4 separate regions of the Homo sapiens genome follow, and all the other regions are linked to region 1. Evidence: fine-mapped expression QTL. A gene starts in region 1. Each other region holds a variant in brackets. All regions are shown on one strand. Distances are between the middles of the regions.

Region 1 (2,750 bases):
ATATGCAAAACAAATATGAAACAAAACAAAATAATACAACAAATGTCTAAAATTTTAAAATGAAAACTGAACAAATAAACTAGCTATATCAATGTTGGCATGAACATGTAAAGAAAAATTATTTCAAATGATTTTGTTGAAAAAATATTCGGATTATGTACCCAAAAAGGAAAGAAAGAGAGAGAAAAGCAAGGAAGGAAGAAATGAAAAAAGGAAGGAAGGAAGGGAGGGAGAGAGGGAGGGAGGGAGGGAGGGAAGAAAAAATAATAAAAGCAAGCAAGGAAGTAAGAAAGGAGAGAGAATAAAAGGGAGGGCAGAGGGAGAGAGTGTTTAACTGCATATCTAGGCCTAGTGTTTTAGTGGTATTTATAATATTGCCTATATTGTTATAGACATAAGGAGTAAGCAGCACTCTCAGCTGCGATCTCTGGACCATGATTGGATACATGATTCAGTATAAATACCCTTCCCATTTGCTGTCCAAAATATCTCGCTTCACAGCTGGACCCTAAGAAACAGAGTGAGTGGGCCTCCCCCATGTCCTAGGAGAGCTGAGAAAACCTTGCTCTCAGCCAGGCTGCTTAGCTGAGGCTTAGCTGAGATGGCAGCTTAGTCTTCAGGAAAGTCCTGGGGGAGGGTGGGGAACAGGGTACAGCTGCTGACAGGAGAGTGTAATATTAGGGGGGAGATCAGGAGTTAAGCTGTTTCTCTTTGTACAGAATACAGTAAATTCAGGGCAGGAAATGAGAGGGGACGGCTCTCTCTTGTGTACCAGAAGCAGCCACAAGACAGATATTCAGTGTGGTGTAGAGCAGGTCTGAATCACTCTGCCTGTCCTAGGTGGCACAGTAATAGACCCCAGAGGCATTTTCATTTAGTTTTGGAGGTATAAATTTCCAGCTTATCCTTCTACTTCCATAAGTATCATGCTTTCCTGACTGACTCCTGATTCCAACATATCCCTGGAGTTGCAGATGTCATAGTACAGAAGATGCTGTGGGGCCTTCCCCTCCTGGCGTAGGTACCAGTGGATGTAGAAGGCATTTTCTACAGGAAGATCACAGGTGATTACAGCAGATGACCCCATCTGCCTGGTGCCTGACTTTATTTTCGCTTCCAAGTTAGTAGATATCTGACTGGCTGCAATGGGAACAACATAAAATATAATGAGGTATTCCTTAGTATGGCGTCCCTTGCTAAAGAAGAAAAATCCAAAACAAAACCCAACCTGTGAGCCTCTCTGTAGGCAGCACACTTACCAAGAGACAGGAAAGCTAGAAGCAGGGCTAGGGCCCACCACATGCCTTCGTCTCTGGGGTCTTGAAAGAAAGGGCCCAGATGAACAGGAGCAGAAGATCCTCTCAAAACTCAGGTCCCACTCAACAAGGAAGTGATCCCTAGCACAGAAGGCAGTGGGGAAGGCTGGTCTTCCTGAGTCACAAGCAGGGAGAAGTGACTGAGGATGTGTCTTAGGGGACTCCCACGCCTTCCTTCCAGAAGGGTGGTGCCTGGGAGGACCTGCAGAGGAGCTCCTGCCTCTCTGCTCAGGCCAGTTCTGCAGCACCCTCTGTGGCAGCTGAGAGCAGGCCCTCTGCAGAAGAGAGCCAGGGGCATGGAGAGTTCAGGCCTCCAGCAGAGGGAGTGCAGATATGGGGAAAGCTGACCCCTGGAGTCAGCAGGCCCAGCCCTAGGAGGGGGCAGTCCCACAGCAGGCTCACACCCTGCCCTTCAGAGTTGCAGCAGCTAATGCTGATGCCAGGACCTTGTCCTGCCAGGAAGCCTCTGATTAGGGCTGTGAACCAACTTCCTTTTCACATCTGCAAGGACACTTGGAGGCAACTGCCCAAGGCCACTCTGAGGAGGGTTGAATGTTCTTTATTAAAAGGACTGAGGATCATGTGTGTTGGTGGGCCTTGGACTCTGCTCTAAGGTAAATGTGTGTGTGTGTGGCGGGGGGCGGGGGGGGGGGTGCCTGTAATCCTGTGGGTGTGATCTCTTTATTAGACAATTTTTGTTCATTAAAGTAGGAGTGTAAGTTTGTTTGTTTGCTTGTTTGTTTTTAAAGTAGTACTGGGTGCCATGTCATGAAATATTTGGAACATACTTGAACTAAAAACTTGTTATATATCTGAACTTCCAAATTCCCTGGGTATTGTATATTTTATTTGTCATCCCTACCCTCAGAAAGCAGACTAATATCTGCAGTGCACCTGGATTCACAGATGGAAATAAGGGGACAAAACAAGTACAGTAATATAATTGTGAAAATTCAGTAGGGCATGCACAGATTACCACCACCTCTGTAAGAAGTATATAGAGACACATGTTTGAAATATGCATAATGAGATGTAGAACAATGTCTCTCTTGGTTGTTGTGTTGTCCTAGCTCAAATTTTGCAGTTTCTGCTGTCATCACAGCTGGGAATGAGAAAGGGAAGGGGCTCCAGTTGGTCTCCCTCTGCCTCTGGAGCACACGTGGAGGACATGAGGCTTCCGCAGGAACAGCTCTGAAAGCTGAGTTCTCGGGTCCCTGTGAAGGAGGGAAGCTTGCCTGCCTTGGAGCGTGAAAAAGTCTTGCTGGACAGAAGTCTCACGGTTTAAAACTGGGAAGGGAGAGGATTGAGATCACACTAGAATGCACAGAAAATTCTTAAAACAAAAAAATGAGAGAAACTTCATCAGAATGTGAAAAGAACTATAAAGCTACAGTGCTGAAGAGAGGGCAATACTGGCACTAGAATGAGAAGATT
Region 2 (2,750 bases), 34 kb after region 1:
TTTTTAAGTTATAAAGTATAAGAGACCATGAAGAAAATTTCAGAAAGATTTTAGAAACTCAAGGGTCACTCTCAGCTGCCAGTAAGAAAACAACCTAAGATACTGTTGAATAGTATTCATTCAGTTAATTATGGTGGACCTCAAAAAGTCATAGGAATTTCCTCTAGCACTGTTAAGTAAATAGTTAATGGCCTTTTATTAAAAGACTAATTTTTAAAGTCATAGCAGAAATTCTTGATCCATTAAATGATAGCAAATACCCTTTGAGTGTCAAACATTGTATATATTTATTCTTTTCTTGCAAGCAGAAAATAGGTGTTACTTATCCCCATTTTTCAGATGAAATTGAAGCTTACAGAGAGGTTAAATAACTCCTCGAGGTCACCTAGCTAATAAACAGCACACCAAGAATTTGAACCAAACAGACAAGTCTCCAGAGCCTGTACCATAAGGGAACTGCTTGGCTGTTTATGATTCAGGGATTAATTTCTGTCTTCATGAAGCTGCTGCATTTTGATACAAAATGTTATATTTCCGATTTGATTTCAACTCCCAGCTTCATGCTTTAAAAGAAGTAGTGTTTTGACTGCATTTAGTTATTTGTACAAACCTGTAGCACCCCCTCCTGGCCATTCGAGGTATACCATACATGTTATATTACCCCAATATTAGACCCCAACGAATGGCAAAGACTTCGTATAACGAATGGAAAGGTCCCCAAATGCAAGGCAGGTTCCAACTGCACACCTTATGTGCTTGATAGTTTTAGGCAAGAGACTCCTTCTTGCAGGGCTGTCATTTCCCCCGCCTCAAAATCAGAGGAGTGGGTGATGTTTTTGGTCTCTTCTAGTTCTAATTGTGATTCTGAATTGAATTGATAAACTGGATATTGAAGGAATAGGTGTGGTGAAATGAAAAATGGAAGCTTCTAGTTTTTATTTTGATCCAACAATAATGCATGTTATTTGCTTCCTCTTGACTCAACATTGCTCTAGGAAAAGCCTATTCTATATAGACTCCTTAACAAAAACATTGATTCCTAAAGGTCTTCTGAATGTTTGGATAGCCAATGGCTTTGCAGCCCAGCCTGGCCACTACATGAGGCCGATGACTTTAACAAACTTATTTCAGGCCAGTGTAAATGCAGTGTTCAAAAATCCCACCTAAGAAGGATGGGAACACGGAGGTTTGTGTAGGTAACATGCAGGTGTGTGCACATGTACCCAAGAATGCACACACACATACATGGACACAACTGCAATTGATACAAAAGGCTGAACTGTGCTGATTCTTACAGGTACTTGGTTCTGGCCCAGTCTGGAAAAAAAGAAAAGATCCTTAGTCTAAACATGCATACAAAATAGAATTCCCACCATGCTTTGATGTTATCTATTTATAATTTTCAATGTTTCAATGTTTTGTGGTCTTAAAAATTACAAGGATTATTATCAATAATCCTTGTACCTAATGTGCCTTGACTCTGAAGGACATGGTAACTGCCTGTGGTTTAGAAAATGTTTTGGCTAAAAGACAAGTTCTCCTCCCTCCTCTCATTTTTATATCACAGAGCTG[C/G]ACGGGGGCTTGGATCAATGCCTGAATCCAGTGTTCCTGAGTGCAGAGCATCTTTGCTCTGGGTGAGCTTTGACCATCCTGGAGAAGAAGGCTGCTGCGGGGGTGGGACAAAGCCAAGACCAATGCCCAGCGGCCAAGGCCAGCCAGATGGCTCTGTGCTGGCAGCCAGTGTACACGGATTTTACCTGAAGGAAAATGTCACATTTTCCACAGACAACTGAAGAAAGAGAGCTCTTTGGATTACCCTAATTGTGATTTACTCATTGGAACCACTGTTTTGGATTGTCCAAAATTAAGTCTCAAAGCTTAAATATGAGGCTTCAGGGAGTTATCCTGAAATCAGTGCTTGGTATCTTCTTGTTTTTTGCTTGTTTTTTAAAACCTTAATTCTCATATTTTTCTGTCATATTTCTCAGTGCCTGGTACATTATCACCATTAATCCATGCCAGTTATGTACAGTTTTGCATGTTTGTTTTTTATTTTACTCTTTTCTCTCCTTCATTCCCTATTCCTGTTCCCCCATAGGTGCCCAGTCTAATGTATTTGATATCTGTCCTTAGAGCCTCCGTATCTGTGAAGACTAGAGTCATGCACTTCATCACATTTCAGTAACGATGGGCCGCATGTACCACAGTCCCATGAGATGATAGAGGTGCAGAAAAATTCCTGTCATCTAGTGACATCGTAGCCATCATAACATCACAACACGACTCTCATTTGTGGTGACCCTGGTGTACACAAACCTACTGTACTGCCAGTTGTATAAAAGTCTAGCACATCCAGCTACGCACAGTACATACTTGAAAATTATAATAAATGACCATGTTACTGGTTTATGTAATTACTATATTATACTTTTTAATCATTATTTTAGAGTGTACAACTTCTACTTGTAAAAAAAAAAAAAGTTAACTGTAAAACAGCCTCAGGCAGGCCCTTCAGTAGGAATTCCAGAAGAAGGCACTGTTGTCCTAGGAGATGACAGCTCCATGTGTGTTACTGCCCTGATGACCCTCCGTGGGTACAAGATGTGGAGCTGGACTACAGTGATATTGAAGATCTCGACCCTGTAGGCCTAGGCTAATGTGTGGCTGTGTCTTGATTTTTAGCAAAAATGTTTTAAAAGTGAAAATGTTAAAAATAGAAAACAGTTTATAGAATAAGGATATAAAGAAAA
Region 3 (2,750 bases), 49 kb before region 1:
CCCAAGACCACCCTGGCCCGCCACGCCTCCATCTTGTGCCTATAAAACCCCTGAGACCCTAGTGGGCACACACACAAGTGGCTGGACATCGAGAGGAACACTAATGTGGAAAAGCACACCTACAGAGACTGGCGGGCTGCAGGCCATCGACTGGCAGAACAAAGCAGAGTTTGGCGAGACTGGCGGGCTGCAGGCCATCGACTGGCAGAACAAAGCAGAGTTTGGCGGGGTGGTTGGAGGAAAGCCTGGCCGCTGAGCAGTCAACTCCAGGGGAAAACCACCTTCCCACTCCATCTCCCGTCTGGCTCCCCCATCTGCTAAGAGCTACTTCCACTCAATAAAACCTTGCACTCGGCCAGGCGCGGTGGCTCACACCTGTAATCCCAGCACTTTGGGAGGCCGAGGTGGGCAGATCACGAGGTCAGGAGTTCGAGACAATCCTGGCTAACACGGTGAAACCCCGTCTCTACTAAAAATACAAAAAATTAGCCAGGCATGGTGGGGGGCGCCTGTAGTCCCAGCTACTCGGGAGACTGCCCAGGAGAATGGCGTGAACCCGGGAGGCGGAGCTTGCGTGAGCCGAGATTGCGCCACTGCACTCCAGCCCAGGCGACAAAGCGAGACTCCGTCTCAAAACAAAAACAAAAATAAAAAACTTGCACTCATTCTCCAAGCCCACATGTTATCCAATTCTTTCAGTACACCAAGGCAAGAAACCCAGGGATACAGAAAGCCCTCCGTCCTTGCAATAAGGCAGGGGGTCTAATTGAGCTGGCTAAAGCAAGTCACCTATGGACAGCCAAACTAAAAGGACACCTTGTAACACAGGCCCACTGGGGCCTCAGGAGTTATAAGCATTCACCCCTAGACACTGCTGTGGGGTCGGAGCCCCACAACCTGCACGTGTGCATGCTCCCCCTAGAGGTTTGAGGAGAGGGGCACCAAGAAGGGAGCCACATCCTTATCGCACGCCCTGAGAGGGAACAAGAAAACTTTTCCCGTTTGGACACCATGAATCACCAATGTGATTCTGCACACCAAGGGAGCAGAATCTAAGATGTCTTCCTGCAACATTCCAGAAGAGCTGCAGGGAGGGCAGGCTCCGGCTGGGCACCCAGCTGAGCAAACCGCTGTGGTTGCCCACATGGAGAAGGATGTGGACAGGCACAGACTCGGAGATAGTTTCTGTGTAGGTTATCTTGACAACTCTAACACTGTGGTGCCTAATCCAGCAGGCACAGTGGTACACCACCTCATCTTCTTTCTCTAAGAACTTTATTTTCAAAGTGGAAGTGGAAGTGTGAGCATTTTTACTTACCTCAAGTTTCTTAGTCTTCCCACCTGAGCAATCTTGAGCAGAGATTGTCAAGAAGACATGTAATAAATATTCTAAGCCTTTGTTTGGTTTCTGCCAGTACCAGTGTATGATTTTACTGCTAAAGCCTTGGATGGATGCCTTCCAAGATATGTGGGCACTCTTATTTGCTGGTCTGGAAATAGATATTT[C/T]AGGTTGTTCCAACTGCCCAAGTGCAATTGCAAGTGAAGAGAAATTCCCATAAGCCAACGATACGTGAAGAGGTAATAATACAGAATGACTTCAATCTCTTCTGTAGACTGAAATGATTAGGGGGCAACTCACAAACCCAGAGGGAGAAGAAGATAACAGCTACTACCAGTGGCATGCTTTCTGCCAGTCTGGTTCCCCAGGGAGAAGGTAACCCTGTTCACTGGAGGTCTCAAGTCAGTGGCAGAAGGCGGGGCTGTTGAGGTCTCTCAGAAGTACTAGATGAGGTGGTTCCTTAGGGTTCTTCATGAGCTGCTACAGTTATGAGCAGTTCCAGGGTTTCCTGCATCCCATGAGTGCTGGGCAGATCGGGTAAGTGGGTTAACTATCTGGAAAGAAATACCTAGTATGAATGTGTACCTCTAGGGGTGGGGCAGGGATGTTCTCTTGCCCACTCTCCCATTCCCCAGCAGTACCATATTGCAGAAATATGGCTTTGAAAATGTGAAGATAAACCTGCAGTGTTCTGTCCCAATGACTATCTTTCTGTAATTAGCTGTTAATTCAGAACTGCAGTAAGAAACTTGACAAGCATCTAATATCCATTTACAACTTGCTACTTGTCTAGATGTTTTCTTATATTATTTTACTTGATCCTCTCAACAGTCCTGTGCAGTAAGTTTTATGATTATCTCCATGTGTCAAATGAGGACAACGGCAAACAGAGTTTGAGTGACTCATTCAAAAACACAGAGCTGGTAAACATAAGAACTCAGGTGAGTAGCAGTCATCCGTTAAGGAAAATCTGAGTAAAATGAGATATAAAAATTGACAACAAAAGGCACCCATCATTTACTTTTCCTTTGAATTTTTCTCAACATATTTATGGTTGGAAATAGAATAGCTTGGTATTGTTCATTGCAGCACTATTCACGGTAGCAAAGACATGGTATTAACCCAAATGCCCATCAATGATAGATTGGATAAAGAAATTATGGTACATATATACCATGGAGTACTATGCAGCCATAAAATGGAAGGAGATCATGTCCTTCACAGGAAAACGGATGAGCTGAAAGCCATTATCCTCAGCAAACTAATGCAGGAACAGAAAGCCAAACACTGCATGTCCGCATTTATAAGTGGGAGCTTAATGATGAGAACACATGGACACAGGGAGAGAAACAACACACACTGGGGCCTATTGGCGGGCAGGGTGTGGGGAAGGATAGCATTAGGAAAAATA
Region 4 (2,500 bases), 50 kb after region 1:
AAAGATTTCCTTAAAATTTTATTATAGAAAAATATTTTAAAGCAGAAGAAATAACATAATGAACCCCTATGCGTCTGTCACCCAGTCTGAATCACTCTACTGTCATGGCTGATTTTATTTTTCCCACCTTTCCCTCAACTCCACCCCTGAGAGTAAACATTGGCTTTTAAAGTGTGTATTTTGCCATTGAGCATATTCATAGAATCACAAGCTGTCAGAGCTGGAAATGGATTATGTTATCCCTAAATTAATTTTTCTGATTGGAAAACTGATACCCAGAGAGAGGGTCTATATGGGGTGCCTTAGGTTATTCTACAGTTAGTGAGGAGGCCAGAATGGGCCCAGCAAGCTCCAGCCGTGCTTGGCACAAGGCTTCTTGGACTGCTTGTGCTCCAGTTAAAACGGAACCTGGCAGGAAACAACCCCTTATCTAGAGGTTTAGCTTTTCCTCCAAATTAATTTATTCATAAATCCATTATAGCCACCCCTGTCCCCACAAGAGGTAGCAAGGTAGCAGTTACTTTCTAATGGAGAGAGACAAAGACAGAGAGAGAGAGAGAGAGAGAGAGAGAGAGAGAGAGAGAGAGAGAGAGAGAGAGAATGATACAACATTTTACACTTTAGAAGAAAAAGAGCTGATTTTTAAATGTAAAATCAAATTTAAAAACTTAAAATTCCTTTTCAGATTCTATCAGGAAACATCTGAGACAGGAAACACTTAGGTTAAGCCAGTGTTTTTAGGTATTTACTAAGTTTTTTTGGTAAGAACCCTTTGGTTTATGAAGGCTCTAAGTAGCCTGTCTGAGCAAAACCTTCTTCCCATTAACTTAGCCGCCTTTTTTTTCTGCCTTTTGGTGCAAGTTCATTCATACATGAATCCATTAATTTACCAAATATTTATGGGCTCCCTACTCTGTGTCATGCACCCTACAAGGTGCCAGAGTTGACTGAAGGATTGCTGCCCGACCCCCAGGGGATATAGCCGAGTCAGGAGCTCTTGGTGATTCCAAGGCCTGGTCTGAGCCAGGCTCCACAGATTCACAGGCACCTGGGGGAGTAGAGAGGAGGGAGGGCTGGAAAAGACTCTCCCATTCATTACCCAGGGGCATACTGTTTGCCCTGTGGTGAACTTCCCTTTAATTATTCTTTGTTAAAACATGAAAATCTATTACTGTAGTCCTGGCTTGTCCAAGTGATGTTGTGGTGAAGGGAAAGCAGTTCACAGAAATAATAATTGCAAAAAGTAAAAGTAAAAACTGGAAAACCAAAGGCTTGAGCAAAAGGGCCTTAAAGCAAAAAAAGGATAAATGAGACTTAAAAAATAAGAATACCTTGTAGAGAAAGCCAGGAGGCAATTCCTGAGAGGCCTCCCTTGCAGATGCTAGCTGGTCAGCAGCCCCCATGGCTGGTGCAGAAGGCGTGGGCTGAGGGTCCTGGATAGGCTTCTGCTCCGTAGCCAGCTCCGGTGTCTCGCTGGTGGGGCCCGGAGGAGC[C/T]GCGTCCTCGGTGGTCTCCTTGGGCTCTGCACCTATAGTTATTTCGTTTTCTCCTTCCTCTTCATGGTTGGAGGCAGGCTCTATGACCACCGAAGGAATGACCTTCTCCTGGGGGAAGAAAAACCGTGGCGATGCCCGGCAGGGCCTGGAAAACAGAACCTCCTTGTCCTGCACAACCTGCCTTAGCCCCCAGCCCAAAGCTGGGGCTGCCACTTCCATACTTCCCCACTAGCCAGACTCAGGTCTGGGCCTTCCGCTGTGCCACACAGCCTCCTTCTGTTCCTCCTGAGGCCTAAACCCTTAGTGGAATTAATTTCTGGATCCTTGAATAGCCAGGCAGTTTGGTAAGCATGAGGTTTCGGTGGGAATTGGGAGGAGGGATAGGGGATGGGAGACAGAGTCTTGAAGGGTGAGGGAGGCCATCCTGAGAGGGATTGCAGGAGGAGTCAATGCAGGCCGGCCTGGTTCTTTTTTTTTTTTTTTTTTTTTTTTTTTGAGACAGAGTCTTGCTCTGTCGCCCAGGCTGGAGTGCAATGACGCGATCTCAGCCCACTGCAAACTCTGCCTCCCGGGTTGACGCCATTCTCCTGCCTCAGCCTCCCGAGTAGCTGGGACTACAGACACCTGCCACCACGCCCAGCTAATTTTTATATTTTTAGTAGAGACGGGGTTTCACCGTGTGAGCCAAGATGGTCTAGATCTCCTGACCTCGTGATCCGCCCACCTCGGCCTCCCAAAGTGCTGGGATTACAGGCGTGAGCCACCACGCCCAGCCCCGCAGGCCAGCCTGGTTCTTGTCCCACGGAACCCTAACTCTTGCGGTTGGCAGTTCACCTCCTGTGAGCCCCTTCCTCCCCTCCCCCAGTCCCAGGAGGCCCCCAGTGCCTGAACCATGCTTGCTGATGAAGATCCAGCCGGGGTTTGGAGATCATCCACTAGTCCTTCGCTTGTGATTATCATTCCAGCCCCACACTGCTGTGGCCGCTGGAGGGACCACACCTCCACAA

What was found. PIP is the estimated chance that this variant, and not a neighbour inherited with it, causes the effect.
Region 2: its variant is the best candidate, but not a certain one, in a credible set for the expression of TRG-AS1 in whole blood (TOPMed, PIP 0.67).
Region 3: its variant is the best candidate, but not a certain one, in a credible set for the expression of TRG-AS1 in whole blood (TOPMed, PIP 0.78).
Region 4: its variant is the best candidate, but not a certain one, in a credible set for the expression of TRG-AS1 in adrenal gland (GTEx, PIP 0.90).

The regions. Positions count from the first base shown.
Region 1 is chr7:38,339,870-38,342,619 of GRCh38, forward strand. TRG-AS1 (T cell receptor gamma locus antisense RNA 1) reads left to right here and starts at 1,552. Exons shown (of 4, transcript NR_040085.2): 1 at 1,552-1,930. It also overlaps TRG and the pseudogene TRGV6.
Region 2 is chr7:38,373,990-38,376,739 of GRCh38, forward strand. TRG-AS1 (T cell receptor gamma locus antisense RNA 1) reads left to right here. Exons shown (of 4, transcript NR_040085.2): 4 at 1,568-2,750. Among named protein-coding and RNA genes, the nearest start is that of TRG-AS1, 34 kb to the left of the region's middle. RefSeq lists a silencer at 499-793. The variant C/G (reference allele first, on the strand shown) is at 1,573.
Region 3 is chr7:38,290,397-38,293,146 of GRCh38, forward strand. It overlaps TRG and the pseudogene TRGV11. Among named protein-coding and RNA genes, the nearest start is that of TARP, 18 kb to the left of the region's middle. The variant C/T (reference allele first, on the strand shown) is at 1,507.
Region 4 is chr7:38,390,417-38,392,916 of GRCh38, forward strand. AMPH (amphiphysin) reads right to left here. Exons shown (of 21, transcript NM_001635.4): 19 at 1,332-1,601. Among named protein-coding and RNA genes, the nearest start is that of TRG-AS1, 50 kb to the left of the region's middle. The variant C/T (reference allele first, on the strand shown) is at 1,494.